Homo sapiens: one gene and its partner. The protein of the gene in region 2 interacts with the protein of the main gene of each other region in a pairwise test. Each region holds a gene or a part of one and is shown on either strand. Other genes may lie near its edges.

The links.
Region 1: the proteins of CHODL (region 2) and C2CD2L interact in binary tests that used the Homo sapiens proteins (3 or more experiments, as listed by UniProt).

What each region holds. Positions count from the first base shown.
Region 1 is NC_000011.10:119,102,377-119,110,353, forward strand, and holds the start of C2CD2L (phospholipid transfer protein C2CD2L), read left to right. Parts: upstream 1-4,967; 5' UTR 4,968-5,365; coding exon 5,366-5,719; intron 5,720-5,736; exon of another isoform or gene 5,737-6,978; intron 6,979-7,727; coding exon 7,728-7,823; intron 7,824-7,977.
Region 2 is NC_000021.9:18,247,812-18,254,833, forward strand, and holds part of CHODL (chondrolectin isoform a precursor), read left to right. Parts: intron 1-7,022. UniProt on the Homo sapiens protein: May play a role in the development of the nervous system such as in neurite outgrowth and elongation. May be involved in motor axon growth and guidance.

The DNA.
Region 1 (7,977 bases), on a different chromosome or scaffold from region 2:
TAAACACAACTCAGTTCCCGGAAACAAAGCTACGATTTGGAAGGATGGTGTAAATTCTAAAGCGTAGATCCTTGAAAAGCCCCTCCCACTCTGTTTTTCTTGTCCTCGATTCTGGTATTTTTTTCTCAGCATCCCACCCACCTTCTGCCCCAGCTGTAGCAGTTAGTTGCCCGGCAACCCAGCGCAGCACTTCACTGAGGGATTGGGAGTACCCTCAGGTCTTGGATTTAACTCGAGACTTCAGCTTGGCCGTGGATCACTGCATTGTACCTAGCTCCCACAAGGAGGAGATGGAGATTTCCAGGCTGAGGCTCTGGAAAGAGCTGAGGAGGGAGAGGAATCAGACCCACAACTGATTTCCTGTGAGTCTGAGGAACTCCCAGTCAGGTTTCTTCCTGTAGGTCACTGTGCATTTTGCTTGGCCTCCTGCAGGTTGCTGTGCATTTTGCTTGGCCTGTTCCCCTGCAAACAACAATTCACCAGCTTTTTTTTTTTTTTTTTTTTTTTTTTTTTGAGACAGAGTTTCGCTCTTGTTGCCCAGGCTGGAGTGCAATGGCGCGATCTCGGCTCACCGAAACCTCCACCTCCCAGGTTCAAGAGATTCTCCTGCCTCAGCCTCCCGAGTAGCTGGGATTACAGGCAGTAGCTGGAATTACAGGCATGCGCCACCACGCCCGGCTAATTTTGTATTTTTAGTAGAGACGGGATTTCCCTATGTTGGTCAGGCTGGTTTGGGACTCCCGACCTCAGGTGATCTGCCCGCCTTGGCCTCCCAAAATGCTGGGAGTACAGGCGTGAGCCACCACGCCCAGCCAGTTCACCAGCATCTTTATTACCTTTCATTCCCCGACAGGCTCTTAGGCGGCAAATGATTTCCATTTGTCAGAGAGGAAGTCACCACCAGTGAGTTAGGGAAAGGACTCCAATAGCCTAGCGCTTTGTCCACTCTTCCCTCTATGGCATGTTCCAGGAGTCAGGGTCATGTTGACCGTTTTTAAGCCGAAGATAGTTTCTTCTTTCCCTCAAAATCAGATGTGAGGCCGGGCGCAGTGGCTAACGTCTGTAATCCCAGCACTTTGGTAGGCGAAGGTGGGTGGCTCACTTGAGGTCAGGAGTTCGAGACCAGCCTGGCCAACACGGTGAAACCCCGTCTCTACTGAAAATACAAAAATTAGCCGGGTGTGGTGGCACATGCCTGTAATCTCAGCTACTCAGGAGGCTGAGGCAGGAGGATCGCTTGAACCTGGGATGAGGAGGTTGCAGTGAGCCGCGATCATGCCACTGCATCCCAGCCTGGGCAACAGAGGGGAAACTGTCTCAAAACAAACAAACAAACAAACTAAATCAGATGTGAAATGGCTTTTCTACTTGAAAATGGCTCTAATTAACAACAACAAAAACCCAGATATGTATAAAATACATAAATTTTCGTAATTTACTTGCTAGTATTCCACCAGATTTTCAGTACTTATCCCACTGCTATTATTTTTCTGTGTGTGTTGTGTGTATGCACGTGTGCCCCTTTTAAACTAGAAACTCCCGGGAGGCAAGTGTTTTCTCTTCCACAGGGTGTCCCCATGGGGCTAGGAACACAGACATCTGTGTACAAGGAAGGCATCATCACACATAATGAGGCTGAGGCTGAAAGGAGGACTGAGGGCAATAGGTGCATATGGAGGGAGCAATTAGTTGTGACCAGAGTAAGTGGTCTTGAGGAAGAGAAGTATCATTTCAGTAGATTATAAGAGTAGAAGGACCTTTCACAGGCAGCGACAGTGAGACACCAGAAGCTGGTGGAAAGGAGGAGCTTGTGGGATCCCAGAGGAGGCAGCATTCAGTTATCTTGTTGATGACGAGTATACTGAGACTCCCTGGAGGTCTGAGAGCCAGTCTGTATCTATTTCCTTTTTTATTAGGAGGCCAATCCTAATAAATCTTCCTTCCCAGCCTGGTATTGGGAAGCTTTATCTCTTTCTTCTCCAGAGATCATTAGCCCTCCCTACCACCACCCTCCTGGGGAGGGTGGAAGGATGTAATCAAAGACAAGAGAGACTAAGGATTCATCATCCACATATACATGTTACTATCAGAAAATGGTTACTAAGATACTTGTCAGATAATCTGAGTATTTTTGTTCCCATGATGATAAAGTCCCAGTTGATGATCAGACTAATCAGAAGGAGAAACAAACACATGACTTTTGGCTTCACTTGAAATTGTGTGCCTTCCCTGGTAAAAGTTCAAAGCGTTTTCCTGAATGCTGAAGCCGGCCCTAGGATTCACAGACCAGTTGACTTGTCAGTGGCCCTGGACTGAGCAGACAGTGTTTGAGATGCACACCTCTTCTAAGTAGCCTTGAGTGGCTCCCAATGAGCAAGGCCAATCCACTGAATGTGATTGCTAGACAAAGCCTGTCCCAAAAATGTTTCATAGTGCCACAAAGACAATGAGACCCCTCTGGATAGTCTGGGGCTGTGATACTTGCAGGACTCTATCTGTGGCTCTGTCCAGTCAGCTGAATCACTCTTTTTCCTTTTCCTCCCACCTCTCCCCTCTTAGTCTAGAAAAAAGTTGTTAATTAAAAGCAAGCCCCAGGATTTCCCATTCCACTGGTATGGCATGAATGATATTTCAAAAGACAGAAATGGCATAGAAATTCTCAAAGCATACTTGAGTATTTTCTGTTAGACTTCTTAAAATTACAAAGTTTGTTAATCCCTACTATGTGCATAGGAAGCTCTTCAGTACTGTGGAGGATACAAACTAATATAATTGCAGTTGCTTGCCCCCAGGGAGTCTACTTCAGCATATTTGGAGCATCTTGGTTGAATTTGAGGGAAAAGAGATGACTAAGACATGGTTCCCACCCCTAGGCAGCTTCCTGATGCATGGAAAAAGCAGACATATAAACAATCAGCTAGACTCTAAGGCAGAATGTAAGTGCTAGAGGTCTAAGTAATGGAAGAAAGAAGGAGGACTAGGCTGGGCACAGTGGCTCTCACCTGTAATCCCAGCACTTTGGGAGGCCGAGGCGGGAGGATCACCTGAGGTCAGGAGTTCGAGATCAGCCTGGCCAACATGGTGAAACCCTGTCTCTACTAAAAATAACAAAAATTAGCCAGGCATGATGGCGCATGCCTATAGTCCCAACTACTTGGTAGGCTGAGGCAGGAGAATCACTCAAACCTGGGAGGTGGAGGTTGCAGTGAGCCAAGATCTCGCTACTGCACCCCAGCCTGGGCAACAGTGACTTTCTGTCTCAAGAAAAGAGAAAAAAAAAAAAAAAAAGAGGGAGGACTAACTAGGGAGACTCATGTAACTAGGTAGACTCACAGTTCAGATACTGAATTGTGAAGCAGTATCTGGCAGCATAGGACCAAGCACTCAGTGGAGAAGTTGAGGGAATAAATCAAAGAAGTCAGAGAATGGAGATCACTAGGGGGTCTGAGGGTTCCTGAAGGATTCTTGGGGGAAGAGGGTCTTCATAGGGAAAGCTTCTACCTGGACAACTTCCTGCATAACCTGCTCCCCTAAACCCTAGCTGCTCTTCCCACTGACAGCTTCCTCCTGCATCCCTGGTTCTGGCCCTGAGTTCTCTCCTCCCTTGATTTCATGTCTTCTCCTCCCTTTGAGATTAGAAACCCAGACTCTAGGAATCTCCACTGATTTGGCAGTCCAGTGACAATGCATGGGCAGGGCCACAGGAGGTTACCTCATTCACCCCCACCTCTCCCCATCATTCCTTACAGGGAAATCTAGGGAGGCCCAGGCTACCCCACCACCTCCTCTGGCTCAGACAAACCTGTTGCTGACCTGTCAGTTTCTGTCTAGCCCTGCCATCCCACACTTCAGAAGGCATTGTTTATTCTCTTATTCTCATGTGCTCATTCCTCAGACAACTACTTGGGTTTGGGAGAAAGATACTTAACACCTTTCCATCCTACCTCTTTAAGAAAGGGACTGTGTGCCAAAGACCTTCCCACATGTATGAAGAAGGGGCTCTTGGGAGAATGTGAATTCCCCCAGGATTCCTTTGAATCCTTTTGCAGGTATTTCCTTCCCCTGTCCTCAGCAAGCATTGATGAGCCCCAGTCCTGTAGAGGTTGAATCAACTCCTTGAGTCTAGGAAAAGATGGCTTCTGAGGCCAGAGGTTGGGCAGTGTACCTACAGCACCATTTCTTGGGAGCTTGTTGGGATATCACATACTTAGAGTGGCAAGGTCTTGTGGCTGAATCTATTGATAGTCCAGTGCTACATTGCCAGCTCCCTTGTCATTACCACCCCCTCTACACGTGCTCCATAGGCAGGAGCTGTTACTATGGAAATACATTATTTTTAAAAACAGACACACAGCCTGGGCTTGGGAATCTCCAGAACAAACCTACACGAGCAAGGAGGTTAATGGGGCTGTTTCTGGGTCCAAGCTCCAAGAGGAAGGAGGGTGATGATGGTGGGGGGAATTCAAATTCGGTGTTCTACTCTCAACCTCTCCCAGCTTCAGGTTCTGCTTTCTCTCTGTTGACATCAGCTGGACCTCTGCCAGACACTTCTATCTGGGAGGGACGCTCTGCGTCTCCTTACCCTGGGCCTAGCTTCCCCCAGGAAATGGGAAGCTAGAAGTCGCTGAGTCTGGGGGTGTTGGGAGAAGGGGGCGGTGATTTCCACAGGGGTCACCTCCTTCTTAACCTCACAGGCGTCCGACCTGTGGAAATCTAACAAGCATAGGGGAAAGCAAAGGCAGCATCTTAGGTAAGTGAAGTTACTCTTGCCTTGAGCTGAGTGTGGGAGCACCGCGATTGCAAGATGGGGCGAGGTGATCAAAGATCCCGCCTATTTTCAACCCCGGAACCTCCTCCGCTCGCTGCTAGCCCTCCCGCCCTCCTCCAGCGAGGGAGCGCCAGGCTGTCCTGGCCCCGCCCGGCGCGGGTGCGGCTCCTTTAAGGGCGGGTGGGGGCGGGGCGCCGGCGGTGTTGTCAGTGTCAGCTCTGCGCACGCAGCCCTCCCGGAGCCGGTGCCGGCCCGCGAGCCCCAGCGTCTCTGCAGACCAGTCCCCTCCAGGGTCCGGCGGGGCCCGCGCGGTGGGAGGAGTCGGGCACTGGCCGGCGACTAACGGGTCCGACTGCTGACCAAGCTAGGAGAGACCCGGACCACGGAGACAGAGACCCCGGCATCGCGACCCCCGAGGACCTCCTCTCCTCGCCCTGTGGCACCCACTAGTCCTGGGCACTCAGCCGCGGAGAGCCCCCGACCCCGCGCGCCCAGCCCCGGGGGAGCCCACCTCCTCCCCGCGGCCCGCCCGGGCCATGCTCCCCCGGGGCAGCGGGTGAGCCCCAGCCGGGACCGGGATCGGAGCCCGCGCGGAGCATGGATCCGGGCTGGGGGCAGCGGGACGTGGGCTGGGCGGCCTTGCTGATCCTCTTCGCCGCCTCGCTGCTCACGGTGTTCGCCTGGCTGCTGCAATATGCCCGGGGCTTGTGGCTGGCGCGGGCCCGCGGGGACCGGGGCCCGGGACCCGCCTTAGCCGGGGAACCCGCGGGTTCCCTGCGGGAGCTGGGCGTGTGGCGCTCGCTGCTGCGGCTGCGGGCGACTCGGGCTGGCGCCGCCGAGGAGCCAGGAGTCCGGGGCCTCCTGGCGTCACTCTTCGCCTTCAAGTCTTTCCGGGAGAACTGGCAGCGGGCTTGGGTGCGAGCGCTGAACGAGCAGGCCTGCAGAAACGGGGTGAGTTGGACCAAGCGCTTGGGTGGTCCCTTCAGCCTTTCCTTCCAGGGGAGGGACTGACTGCTCGTGCTAGGAGGCCAGACGAGGGTGGGCATAAACTGGGGAACCCTATGGCTTCTCTTCCCCTCCCGGATCAGAGAAAAGGGTGCCGCTAAGGCTGGAGGTTGTAGAAATCCAACTGGGTCCCCAGACTTCCATTTCTGTGGGCAAGGTACTCTGGTTCCAAACCCATGCACAAGTTGCTGTTCTCATAGCAACGCTAATCCCTGTGCCTGAGGGCACTTCCGCCTTGCCTGGGTGCTGGTTGTGTTGGGGCATGGGAGACAGGTGCACCTGCAGAAGGAATTTGCCTGCTTCTCATGCCACCACACCCATTTAACATTTCATGCCCCAAATCCCTGGTGTGGTCAGGCAGATCCCCAAGGAGCCTGAATCACCCCCCTACCCGACAGTAATTTCACTGCTACAGTCAAACACATCCTTCTCCTCCATGCTGGCCTGTGGTTCACTGGGGGTTGGGGAGTGTTCAGGTGGAGAGCAGATTGACAGTGCCCCTACCAGTAGATGAGCTTGGAACTGCCCCTTGAGGGTCAGTCACAAACCAGTCCAGCCTACTTCCTCCCATTGCACCATGGGCATCTGGCCTCCCAGGAAGTGGGGCAGGAAGCGTGGTCATGAGATGGAGATAAGGTGGGAGGTAGAAGTCTCTCTTTTCTGGAGCTCCCTCCCATCCTGACCCAGCAATCTCTCCTTGCTCTCACAGTCCATCAGCTCCTTGCTCAGAGGGTTCTCTATTTCCAGCCACTATGAGTTTGGAGGCTTTACCTTACTAGTTCCCCAGATGCCGGAAACAGAAATGTCCACAAGAAATTGCTCTATTTACTCTGTCCAGCTGGCTGGCTAAAAGCCAGATGGCATCTGTCAGTTTACACCTTGAACCCACCTCTTCATCCAACTCTCCCTGTACCTTGTCCCTCGGTCAGAAGCAACTCCCCAGGATAGCTGACTCAACTGGACATTGGCCTCCCTTGCAGAGGGTGGGGAGATTGAGGTTTCAAGCATCCATCTCCCCATCTTCCTTGGCCTAGCCTTTGAATGAGACAGCTACCAGAGCAAAGGAGTTGGCTTCCCCTGGTTTGCCAAGCAAATGAACCCTATGGATTTGTTTCCTCCATCTCAAGACCCAAGGAAGAGTTGCCAGCCAATTCTGTGCCCCTTCCTCAATTCTGTGTCCGCACTGCTCTCCAGGTGGGGCTGCGGTAGGTTGCTTCCATTACTGTGGACGAATTAGGGAGCAGCTCTTTTGAGATCTAAGCAGCTTTCTGCTCTCTAATACCGTCCTGCTATCTGCCTTGAGGAATTAGCCAGGCCCCTGGACTCTTGGGTCCTCTGAGCTTGTATCTCTTCCCAGTCCCCCTGGTACGGATCCCCAAGGCCATGCTCATCTTCATCTCCAAGAATATGAAGCATCATACTCTTGAAGCCTCCACATCTTATTTATTTGGAAGAAGGCTTAGCTTCATTTCTGCAGCTCTTATCTTGAACAAGGTGGCTCTACCACCTTTACCGGGGCTTAGCCCTTTCCCTCTGCCCAGCTATTATATATAGGTGGCAACCAGCACCTTAACTTTTTTCTATGTAGGATTTTTTGTTTGTTTGTTATTTGTTTTTTTAGGGGGTAGGGTAGGGGATGAAAGGGATTGCAGGGAGAAGAAGAAGGAAGCTCTTGGTATTCCAGGAGGAAGCCAGGGTCTTCAGCTTAAGGTGATCTAGTCTCTGAGGTGGACTACCTCCCCATTGCTCAGTGGCTCCTAGCAGCTACAGGCCCCTGGAGAGGCAGGCCTTGAGGGGACTACCTCCTGTCTTAAAGCCCTGAGCCAAGGAGGGGCCAGAAGCCAGCCTGCAGCTGAGGCCTCCGCAGTGGCAGAGTCCAGCCAGCAACTGAGCAGGCCAACCCTGTGGGGGGCAGCTCCAGAGACCTGATCCAATGCCCACATTACTCCCTCAGAGCTCCATCCAAATCGCCTTTGAGGAGGTGCCCCAACTCCCACCCAGAGCCAGCATCAGTCATGTGACCTGCGTAGACCAATCTGAGCATACCATGGTAAGGGTCTGATGGGCACTGCCCTCTTTGGGGTCCAAGAAGGACTGACCCCAAGGGCTCCCTTTAGTCCAGAGGTTCTTAACCTGGAGTCTGTGAATGCCTTATGGATCTAAGGATTGGTTTCAGGAAGTCTGAGAATCCCATTGAAGTTATG
Region 2 (7,022 bases):
GGGAGCTGCAATCATTTAATTTTGTGAAGTGACTGGTGAGTAGTGATGTCTTCTTTAGGACAAAGGTAAAAGGATTTTACTTGTAGGCATAAGGATAAATATGAAGGATTCCAAATTCAGGTCTCTAAGTTGGGAGGATATGTTTGAAGAGCAAGTGATACTTTTAAACATTTGAAGTGTTTTGAAGTAATGTGTTTCTTTTTTTTTTTTCCTTTTTTCTTTCTAGTGTGCATAGCAGTGATCCCCAACCTATTTTTGCTGCAAAATGACATTAGGAATATTTCATGGTGCTTCCAGATTTCTCCAGGACACTTTAATATATATCAGTTTAACTTTATTAAAACTGGCACATGTTTTATTTAGGAGACTGGGTGATTTAGAGGCCTCTCTTCTTATCCTGTGGATACCATAGAATATTGCAAATTCATGGGTGGTGAACAGTAGCACATACATTAATACAATATGATATAATATATACCAAGGGAGATACAAGAAAAACTGCTGAGCCTTTCTCAGCCTATGGAACTAATCTATGACATCATCAAAAGCATAAAATGATGACAGTGCAGTTTTCAGAGATGCAATTACTTTAAGTATCTCTCGGGCATGAAAGGAACAAATTAATCTTATTACCAGTCATTTAATGAACTAACCATTTATCATAGCCATTATTCTTCAACTGCTGTTTGTCATCATTTTATGGTTTTGTTTTATAACTCTTTCCCAAAGATGGCAGTATCTGTTACATTACCTTTATAAAAGGTAATGTATTTTATATATATATATAAAATATATGTATAATACATATATAATATATATAATACATATATGTATATATTATATACATATATATGTATAATACATATATGTATATATTATATACATATATATGTATATAATATATACATATATATGTATATAATATATATGTATAATATATATGTATATATGTTATATATAATATATGTGTGTATATATGTATATGTGTGTATATATGTATGTATATTATATATGTATGTATATTGTATATGTATGTATATATACATTGTATATGTGTATATATATGTATTGTACCTATAATATAATACATATATATGTATAATACATATATATGTATACATATATATTATGTATACATATATATGTAATATATACATATATGTAAATATATATTATACATATATGTATTTATATATAATATATATTATACATAATATTAATATATATAATATTATATATATTATATATAATTTACTATATATAATATATATATAATAAAATATATATATATAATAATATATATATAATAAAATACATATATAATAATATATATATATATAAAGGAGTCCAAGGTTAAAATTCAGAAGATGCACTCACAAACAATTTTTACTATTTACAACAACTTTCTGTGTCAGGAATTCATATACAAGTAGATGGATGTGTGCGACTCTAGGATGAGAGTGTTTCTTTTACTATTTTAACATATTCCTCATGATATAACACAGGATGACAACTTGGCTAAAGTTATACTCTTTGTAATGTGGAATGCATTCAATTTGGATCTAGTTTGTTTTATTTGGAAAATAAAAAGACTAGATAAAAATTTATTAAAGGCATATATGGTTTGAAAATCTGAGACAGAGGCAACATTAATTCTTATTTAAATATTTGTAACAGAAAATCTAATTCTGTTTAGAAACAAGCTCTCAATGCACAAGCCTTGCTTATATTAGCCACCCAATAATCAATAACAGATTAATGCTTATGATTCTGACATAGATAACATGCACAGTGTTTGTGTTCATCAATCCCTTTTGTTCATGAAATATTTCACCTTTATATTAGGTTTGAGACATATGGAGACAGCATAGAAACCTGGTAAAAGCATGGAGTGTAGAGCCAGATGGCCTGGTTTCACAACCCAGCTTCAGCACTTGTGAGCTGTGTGAACTGCCCTCTTTGCCTCATTTTGAAAACAGATAAGAGCACCTATGTCATAGGATTGCTAGGAATATTAAAAAGGTTCAAACACAGTTATGCAGATTGTGCACTGTGTCGAGGTACAAGCCAAAGAGACAGGAGAAGGAGCTCAGCTTGGCAAGCCCAGTGCCTGTAGCTCAAGCTACCTAGAGGCAAAATCAACTTTTTCTAGTTGAACAGTCTATAAGAGGGACCTTTCTGCCATCTCTCACCAGGAGAGGTCGTCTTTTCCCAATTTATCCCAAAGCATGGATTGTGGTAGAAATGAGGTGCTACATTCTAAATTATTGCTAAATTTGAGGCTTTTATTATTAGAATCATTACTTCTATAAAACTCATAACTGGTCTCATTATTTAAGTAAGAAGACTGAGGCCAGGGGTGATTAAATAATCTCAAGTACCCAAAGTTCAAGTGTAGAGTTTGGTTTCAAAGCTAATTCATTTTGATTGGCTACATGAACTCTTAAGTCACAATGATACTTGGTTTACTACTTATTATTCTAATCTCCATTGTAAATATTCTGATTTTTTAAAAAAATAGTCTCATGCTCTTCTCAGAAAGCTTACGCATTTTCCAACTGGAAAAGTAGGGCTTGCTGCTGCTGCCACCATCCAGAAAATGACCACAACCTACATTTATAAACTTAATTTAAAATTATAAATAAAATTATAAATAAATTTGTTTATTAATGTAAGAAAATAGACTCCAGCTATAGTGCACTATGCAATTAAGTACATTATAAAATCTCTGTTGTAAAAATAAAAGTTTATTATAATAAAACTCTTTATAAGAAAAAATTTTAAGAAGTTGGTGTAACATTGAATGCTGAACGCAGAACACTTGAACACCAGTCATTTTCTTTTTAGTTCAAAAGTGTTGGCACTGGTATCACAGTCCTTGCTGCACTGTGTATGGTAGTATCAACATATTTATCAGTGTGATTGTGAGGGGGGTAAGAAGAAATTATGAAAAAGAAAAAAATATCTTGTGTGATTCTAATAAAACATTCTAAGTTAATTCAGTCTGGTTTGGGGAATATTTACCATGTGGATGCTCTTTTTTACTTTTTTTTGCAACTAATGGTAGATCATAATTGAACAGCAGGAATTTGTAATATGTCTTTTATATTTTTATTGAAAAAGTGATATAAATTCAATATTCATCTAATATTAATAATATATAATTATAGCGTGAGATATTAGAAAATATTTATTATTTTCATAACTAACTGAGCACTCAACTATCAGAAAATAAACAAATATAAGCAAAAAGAAAACCAAATTATAGATCCTTTCTGCTCAGAAAGAAAAAGCAAACTACCCTGACTTCATGAGTTTGGCCCCACTTTATATCATTGCCAAGAGCATTTAAACCTCTGCCAATAGTTAGCTCTATAGAAATTTTAATGGCTAAGGAAAAAGACAAAAATCATCTACTTATTCATGGAAAGAGTGATGAAATCTTTGTTGTGACAGTGATAGGAGTGTTAATAATAATAACTTTCTCTAAATAAAAGGGCCTGTTTATTTATGTAGCTGTGTGTGAAACTAATAAGGATGAATATTTCTTTTATATAAAATAAATGTATTTTATTTGTTTTAATATATAAAATATGTATTTTATTTATTTTATTTATTTATTTTAATATATAAAAATACATATTTATTTTATTTATTTTAATTATTTATTTTAATATATAAAATAAATATTTATTTTAATATATAAAATATTTATTTTATTTATTATTTTAATATATAAATATTTATTTTATTTATTTATTTTAATATATAAAATATTTATTTTATTTATTTATTTTAATATATAAAATATTTATTTTATTTATTTATTTTAATATATAAAATATTTATTTTATTTATTTATTTTAATATATAAAATAAATATTTTATTTATTTATTTTAATATATAAAATAAATATTTATTTTATTTATTTTATTTATTTATTTTAATATATAAAATAAATATTTATATACTTTATATAAAGAAGCCTCTTTTATATAAAAGAAATATTCTATAAAATATTTCTGTAAAAATTCAGTGCAATCTATACGACAAACCTCCATGACACACATTTACCTATGTAATAAACCTGCACATCCTACATATGTACCCATGAACTTAAAATAAATGCTTAAAAATCCAGTGCAGAAAAACTTACATATTTAAATACTTTTTAGATTTAAAAATTAATTAGCTCCTAGTGCACATCTAGCAAATAAATTATCTTGGATTTTATTTTCTCAATATGTTTGTAGAGAAATTATCTTGAATTTTATTTTCTCAATATGTTTGTAGAATCCTGGGCAGATCTTTTCTCTCTCTTGTAGATAAGCCCACAGTAAAAGGATGTCTTCAATTGCAGATGCTAGTTGACATTTAGTAATTTATAGTTCGACGGCATAAATGTAAGCTTAGTGTAATAGAACCCGTTATATGGTTCTCTGAATCCTTATCTATCCCATAAAATGTTGATGGAAGATTTTATCTGAACATAACATTTGAAAATAAGAGACAGAGAAATTCTCCACGTTATCTCACAGAATGAGACGAGAGGTAATTGTAATTGTTCTCTAGGAAAATTGGCTTTTACAGAAGTGGGAAAGTTGCTTCCAGAAGATCTGCATTAACAAAACTTTTCTGGGAATTAGGGCAACATTTGTTTCCCAGCTGTTGGAGTTTCACTGCATTAGTAGCCAAATGTGATCAGCTGAAAGAGTGGTGAGACGTTCAATAGCTGCTGCTTCTGATGATTTTGCTGCAACTTGGACCAAATTTGCACGATAAGGTGGAAGTCAGTAATAAAATAGAATTGAATGTAAAGAAATTCAGTGTCAGCTTTAACTGACTGTATATAAACCCATAAAAATTGTGCAATATATTTATAATTTCCTGAAAACTGCCTTGCTAGATCTGAACTGTTAGTGACTTTTCAGTTCAAACTCTGTAGACACAGCTGATGATCAAACTTTAGAGTTAATAGATCTGTTCCAGTTGACGGTGGGCTGCTGTCTTGATGCCCTGAGAGTCTCCCGACCGTGCAGCCATCACAAGCTCCACTCCCTCAAGCAGGACCGGAGGACTGCTCTATTATCCACAACCAGAGACACAGCCTGGCACAGAGAGTGTCAAGCTGTCTATCGTCCAGGGTCTGGACAGCACTGATTGTTAGTTATTTTAAATATAATCTCTCTCCCTAGGTTTTTTTCTTTCATTATTATTATATCTGTATGAACTAACATAATGGTGTTAGAAATTTCCACATGAAACCTAAAGCTCTCATGCATTTAATTAGAAGTACTATCTTAATTTTATGAGTTAATTTACATCACCATTTCTGTATGCTCATCATGAGTAAATCTGTGCTGCATTTATTTTTTAATATATCAGGGATAATGAACAGTGACTTTTAGCATATGCATCATACCCAGGAATTCCCTGAATGTTTGGGGCTTTGTTACATATAACAAACTTTTTACTCACTGAAAGGTCTGGCTATTCTGTTTTGTTTTTTTTTAATATGACATTTTTTGACATCTTGCAAAACAATCTTCTTAGGGAAATTTAATATTTCAAAAGTGCTGGGATAAAATCCAAGGCAGAAAGTTCTTGGAGTGAAAAATCGAACAAGTTAAAAACTCAAGGGAATGTAATTAAGATATATTTGGACACTTAGAACTATGTAAAGGATGTAGTAGATGAAAATGGAAACCGCATGCTTCTAAATACAGTCATGAAAATACAAGCTTAATGGCATTGTTAGGCTCTGACTGAGAACAACCATTTTAAATGATGAAATCATCACAAAACTTAGTAATATATTAGGAGAAATTTTAAAATAATACATTAATTTTCAGAGTCAACCATTGGGGCTTTCTGTTAATTTGGGACTTTCATGATCATCTCTCAAAGAATATTTATTTTCAGGCTGATTTGTCCTCCTGAAGTTTCTCTAACTTATTTCCCATGGTCATTCATACTAATATGTTCTTTTTCATTAACAATTTGGGCAGCCTGTTAATTTGTTCAGATTTTTTAGTGTGTTGCTGCTGGGTCCAGATCACGGTCACGAAACAGAGGGAACAACTCTTGGCTTGCTTGCATTGCCAGAACTACTATTTTATGATTGGTTGTTCTCAGTTTGTGTCAAGATATTGAATGCCTATCACTCAAACACTGTTGAGAAGTTAATGACCTTCCACTGATTTCTGTGCCTTTCTCCCTCTGAGTGTCATCATAGGTCATTAACTGCTGACTCCAGAAAGGAATGGATATGATACACTGGCTCAGTGTGATGTACTGTAATTAAAGTACAAAGTTTGAATGCTTTTTTTTTTTGCCAGTATTTAAATACAAGAATCTCCCCCACCCCCAGAAATCCCTGACTACTGACAACTTTTATTGATAGGCTACACAATTAAATACATAGTAGAAAAGGCCATAAATACCAACAGGAATAATGTTAATGGAGATGAATTGTAAGAAAGTAGAGAAACTATTTCCTAATTTCTTAGCATAAAGTAATTTGTCTAAATTTTACATAAAGTAATTGACAGTCTATTTTCCAGGTCCAAATCTAAGCTAAAATAGGGCAAGACTCAGAAAGTAGAAGAGGCTATGGACTATGGAAAGCAGTCTGGGCATAAGAAATAGTAACAGAGAGGGATCCTTGGCGGTTTTAAAAGTTGACAGCAGAGAGCAGAGGTGAACAAAAGCAGAAGCAGTGAAAATCAAAACAAGACAGAATGACCATTCTGGAGATTGTTTATAATCTTGCCATACATTCTTAGTGGTAAACAAGGGTGAGTGTAGACAATAGAACAATAGAAAGTCCATTGCTTATAGAACTAGCTAAATCCTATACACCGTAATATCCTTGACATCAATCTATTTATATCTGTTTATCGTCTGTCTATCTATCTATCTAATCTGGCATATATATGTAAATATAAATATATACGACTTTATTATGACCTGATATGCATATTTGCAGTTATTTCACTTGATAATTAGGAAAATTAGCACT